Regions from separate parts of the Homo sapiens genome. Here region 1 is linked to region 2. Evidence: fine-mapped QTL for protein levels in blood plasma. A gene starts in region 2. The other region holds a variant in brackets. All regions are shown on one strand. Distances are from middle to middle. Region 1 overlaps GALNTL6 (polypeptide N-acetylgalactosaminyltransferase like 6). Region 2 holds the start of SCRG1 (stimulator of chondrogenesis 1).

What was found. A credible set is the group of variants that fine-mapping cannot tell apart. PIP is the chance, under the fine-mapping model, that this variant and not a neighbour inherited with it causes the effect. The UK Biobank Pharma Proteomics Project read protein levels with antibody pairs (Olink). The fine-mapping took linkage between variants from a reference panel, not from the people measured, so its PIPs are less certain.
Region 1: its variant is the best candidate, but not a certain one, in a credible set for the plasma level of the SCRG1 protein (UK Biobank, PIP 0.72).

Annotation. Positions count from the first base shown.
Region 1 is chr4:172,440,944-172,443,868 of GRCh38, reverse strand. The region is part of intron 5 of GALNTL6 (polypeptide N-acetylgalactosaminyltransferase like 6); the gene reads right to left. Among named protein-coding and RNA genes, the nearest start is that of GALNTL6-AS1, 280 kb to the left of the region's middle. The variant C/A (reference allele first, on the strand shown) is at 1,085.
Region 2 is chr4:173,397,468-173,400,392 of GRCh38, reverse strand. It overlaps SCRG1 (stimulator of chondrogenesis 1), which reads left to right and starts at 1,277. Exons shown (of 3, transcript NM_007281.4): 1 at 1,277-1,325. The region is part of intron 1 of LOC112268474 (a long non-coding RNA gene); the gene reads right to left.

The DNA of each region.
Region 1 (2,925 bases), 960 kb after region 2:
TTTCCCAACATCCGGGCCACACCTTTCCTTGGAGGGAATAAGTGTCCTTATAAAGATCCCATATATATAGGTTTTCAGTTTTCTGTGTTGAAAGATAAACATATTTTTAAATTTTAATAGCTTTTACCAGATTATTTCCCCCAATACTAAAAATAGCATAAAACATTTGATGCTACTGATATCACATAAGTAGTAAAGTAAAAATTGTTTGGACTTCATAGTAAACCTTGTTTTTCATATATCACCTGTGTTCTCAGTCATATCTCTCACATATAAAAAGGGGCTATAATATTACTACTTTATTAGGGTATTGTAATGAATACAAGAAAGCCAAGAACAGGATTTTTTATGTATTAAGTACTAAATAAGTTTAGCTACTTAATTGTTAATATATATGGATCATAGCTGGGCGCAGTGGCTCACGCCTGCAATCCCAGCACTTTGGGAGGCCGAGGTGGGTGGATCACTTGAGGTCAGGAGATCAAGACCAGCCTGGCCAACATGGTAAAAACCCGTCTCTACTAAAAATACAATAATTAGCTGGGCATAGTGGGGCATACCTGTAATCCCATCTACTTGGGAGGCTGAGGCAGAAGAATCGCTTGAAACCAGGAGGTGGAAGTTGCAGTGAGCTGAAATCGTGCCACTGCACTCCAGCCTGGGGGACAAGAGTGAAACTCTGTCTCAAAAAAAAAAAAAAAAGAAATATATATATATATATATATATATATATATATATATATATATGTATATGGATCATTACTGGTGATTTCTCTCCTTCATGTTTGTCAATGTTTACAAGTTTCCATGTTGAACATAATATCGCTTTACAATCAGAATGAAAAAGACCAAAATATTTTTTAAAGGTAAATAAATAAGTTAGAACTTTAAAGTCACCAATAGATAAAATCCCCTTAGTCATGTTGTACTATTAGAAAACTCAGTAGCTTGCAAAGCTTCCTTGTGATATCATCTCTATTTGCTTTAATGTTATTGGTATTTTTTTCTCTCATTAAAAATACGTATGTTATTTTGAAATTCCCTGCCATCAATTGAAATAACAATTTTTGCTAGATCTTAATGG[C/A]AAATAGCACATCATACTGATATTTGCATTCCAAGTAACAAGTGCAGTGCTTAACTTACAGAAAAGCCTTGAAATATATCGGTAACTGAATGGATGGACTCATTTTCTGACTATAGTCTCACTTTAGAGTAAGCAAGGCATGAGCGGAATACGACATAAGCTGATGGGATAGAGCATTTAATTTTCTTGTTGTCCTTTCTTGTTGAGTTTAAAGGCTACAAGACTAAGAAATCCTTTTTTTATAAGAGTAAGGAATTACAAAAGTAAAAAAATTTATCTAACATACAGATTATTTCCGTAAGTATAGTCTAAATACTTATTGAGCATTATTTATAAAATTTAAGTACAAATGATTCTTGCTTTTCACATTAATATTGTTCTTACTTCTGGTTTCAATATGGTGCTGCAGAAGCAAGCTGGCTTCACTCCCCCCAGAAGAAGTGAGAAACAAATATACAGGTGATCGAGATGATCACCAGCAATATCCCAGAACTTAAATATGAGAATGAGACAGTTCCAAAGGCAACAGAGAAGTGAGAAAACTCAGAGTGGGACATAGTAGTTGTGACCTACAAAGTTGCTGTCAACACTGAATCAGTGAATACTGAGTCAATGTTCCAAGGGGAAATACAAGGTTAGGATCCTGCGACCTTTTGATCAAAACATCTTCATCAACTGATGAACACATAACCTTGTTTCATATGTGTTTAAAAATGCATTATTTAATATATATTTCTTATAAATAACTAATTATATATGGATTTTGTTGTAATAAAAACTAGCAGAGAAGGGTCTATCATTTCCCTGATGCTGGATAATGTGACTGGAAATTTCTTTGGCTTTCAGCTTTGCAACAATACTATCAACTACACTTAAAAAAAAATCAATTCTTATCTCATGAAACTACAAATTGAGCCACATTTCCACGTCTTCCCTAGCTCCCTCATACACCATACACGTTACTGTAGCACTTGCTGGGGTAGTTTCATGTACAGATTAGAAAATTTCCTCTTTCTTTTTCTGGATGTATGTATTGTTGATTCACCAACATTAAACTTAGGGACAATCATATTCTAACACATGCCTGAACGAAATTTATCTAAAACACGGATTTTTCTCTCATTAAGCCCAGCACAGCCTTCTTTGTGCTTAGGAATATAAGACAGCATTTTAGCACTCTGCTTGGAGGCCATTTTAAACAGCAAAATCATCAGCAAACAGCACAAAAATGCAAAAATGTGGTAGTAAATAAACCACATAAAGAACACTTAAGGCATGAGAGCTGAAAAAACCAGAGCAGCATCTTGTTGGGCCTCAGCTGGGTCACTGCTCTGTGCATGCTTAATTCTGTGAATGACCACGAAAGCATTGAGTATTGATTGAAATTACAGATAAATTTTAAAGAATAGGTGAATCTGGAAACATGGAATCTATGAATAATAAAGATTAACTGTCCAATATTTCTTGATTTACAGAAATAATAATAACTATAGCAATGAAAATAATATGTCACTGACTGATGGACAATATTACTGTTTGGATATCAATGAGTGTATATTTGGATATGGTAAAGGTAGTATTGAAGATAGTACCTTTAGTGAAATAGATGGATAGTTGAATAAATGACATTGGTATGTGTGTAGCCAGCTGGAGCAAAAACAAATTTGAATTCTAACATCATACCTTATATAAAAACAAATTAGGTTGGAAGAGATGTTTAATTTAATGAAGAAAACATAAAATATGAGAAAAAATTTGGAAATATTTTTGAACCTTAGAATGGGAAGTTATTTCTAAATATGACTCAACACTCTACAACTATTAAATACATTAATAAATAC
Region 2 (2,925 bases):
AGCCAAAACTTTTGTATTCTTTTTCCTAGATGAATAACAGTTATTCCTTTTATATCCTTTTTCTAGATGATTAACAGTATCATCGTCCAAAGGCCCAAGCCTTTGAAAGTTAATAAAATTTCCTATCTCTATGCTAAACATAAACACTTAAGTGGTCATCAGGTCTTTTCAGTTTTCCTTCCTATCTTCCCTTCTGGACTACAGCAAAAGCCGGTATTTTCTGTCTTTAGTCTCCTTTCCTCCCAGGAAACCATCCTTCTTTCACACTGCAGTCAGGCTTTTCATCCTTTTTAATATGTTTTCATCATCTTTCCATTCATCTTCACGATAAAAACAATTTTTTTAGCATGGCATATGAGGTAATTCATCAATTTGCTGCTTCTTGTCTCTCAAATTTCATCTCCTACCACCTTTGGTTTTAGCCAAATGAAACCACCTATAATCTCCGAAGTTGTCACCCTCTTTTTCACCTTCATGCCTTTGTAATTCAACCTGGAATGCCCTTGCCTCAATTGTCTGTCTAGATAATTCCAACTCCATTACAATATAATATCTCTAATTCCCAAAACACTACTCCTAATCGAATTTTTTAAAAACCTAAACAACAGTTAACAGATGCTAGAATTCCAGTATAGTTTGCTGAAAACAGAATAAAATTTCTTTTGTGCTTTTATTTCTAAGGCACAGAATACATTTCTTTTTAGTCATCATTTTAGCTTTCCATTGACTACTAATGAGTCTTTGGGTGAGAAATGGAAGGTGAATTGGAACGTATCTTCTACCAGGATTTTGTAACAGATCTAGATGGCTAGGAAAACTGTGAAAGGGGAAGAGGTGCGCAGCTAGCCATTCCCCACTTTCCTCTTCTCTCTCTCTCTCTCTCTCACACACAGACACACAAACACACACACACACACACACACACACTTTTCTTAAGGGAAAAATCACTCTGTGTTCTTTTAAAATCCCTCAGGTTTTATGTTTTATTGCTACCAGAGTCTGCCTCCCTGAGGTTCTTGTATAGACTAGTTATTTCCCTCTGTAAAGAAGCTGTTCTATTCGTTCTCGCCTGGTTTGGAACAAACTGAACACTTCCAAAGGAGGCAGTCCTTGCAGCCTTGTCTCCTTCCACTCCCCTCCTCCCCACAGTCCTGGCTGGAGCAGCGAGTCTGTCGATCCCAGGCCAGAGACAAGGCAGACAAAGGTTCATTTGTAAAGAAGCTCCTTCCAGCACCTCCTCTCTTCTCCTTTTGCCCAAACTCACCCAGTGAGTGTGAGCATTTAAGAAGCATCCTCTGCCAAGACCAAAAGGAAAGAAGAAAAAGGTATGTAATTTTTTCTCTATAAAAAACATCTTATGTCAGTTGTTCTACTCCAAAGTATTACTGTAGATTAGAGCAGAAATGTATGTATGTGTTGAGTCAGAAGAGAAAGACAGAGATCCTCTGAGGAGATGATGCAGGCACTTTGAAAAATATGATGCTTCCTAGTAGAAAGGCAAATAATCAGATTAAAAAAGAACAGAAAATGTATATTTCTTGACTAGGAAAGTCATTTCATTACAGGTTTAAAAAGAGGCAGATTCTTCACTATCATTTATTTAATGCCCAAATTTACTCTGAATGTTGTCCCACACAACAGGACTTATCCCAGTCCTCAGAACTATGTGAGGATGATAAAGTATATAGGATTGTTTTAAATGCAGCAGCTATATTACCTACACTACATGAAGTTAACTGCAACATCTAAGAAAGAAAATGTTTTTTGCTTTTAAAAATCCTGATTTCTGAAAAGAACCTGGTACAAATGTGTGATACAAAGAGGGAATTCATTGAATTCATCCTTGGTGTCCATTCTTGGAACACAACAGTGTCTGTACTGCTAATATAAAGAGAACACTTTTTCCCTCTGAGACTTAGAAAAATTCCTCTTTAAAATTCCTTAACTTAATTACACAGGCTATGAAAAGCTCTCCCAAATGCTGGTCCTTTTCTCCAGTGATGATGATTTACTGTGTCCAGGAAAAGAAGGAGAATGATGCAAGACTGAATATTAATATCATCTTCTGGCATGCTCTAAAAGCCTGATCACTTTTAGGGAGGATGTGGATTTTGTTTTTCTATGGATGAAGGTATCTTAGATATTTAAGATGATATGTCTGTTTTAAGGATCTTTAAGCAGCTTATTCACTTTTTAATACTGCTTCTGTTCTTTAACACATACTTTGGGAAATTTCACTTTGGGACTCAGTCATTCTAACAAAAACATTTTCTAAGGACTCAGTCATTCTAACAAAAACGTCTTCTAAGGCAGCTAATAAGAAAAAAAGAGAACTTTAAAAAAACAGTGATTTTCATCCTCCAAGAGAGATGAGTGGAAAACATCACAGACTGGGCAGCAATTTTAATCTCTCCCAACTATAATTTTGATATTTCAAATGTCAAGTTCTGGGCTGGAGTTTTCATTTGCTTTTGCAGCTTTGCTTCTCTCTTGCTGCTTTTTTGAAAGCAATCCGAAAATGGACTGTCTTTTCTGTCTAATTCATCAACTCTGTTTCATGCCACTGCTCTTAATACCAGTTCCCAGAACTGACATCAGCTGCCTGTATGAGCATTTGCACCATAAATGTCTGAACACTTAAACTGCATGGTCCTGTTAGTTTTGGCAATTAAATGGGATAATTTTTCTTTTTAAGTCTCCATTTAGCTCCAGCCATTCAAAAGCTTGCTTGTGCTAAATGCCCTCAGACAGAATCAAAATTTGCAACTCCCTACCAAAGGATGGTAGCAATGATTTATTGTTTAGTTGGAAATGTCTTGCTCATAATCCTGTATCCTCTGCAATGATCTATTAAAACTTACAACACTATTAGGATATAAATGGTATCATACAACATTTGGAACAATGTTAATTACATAAAATCGA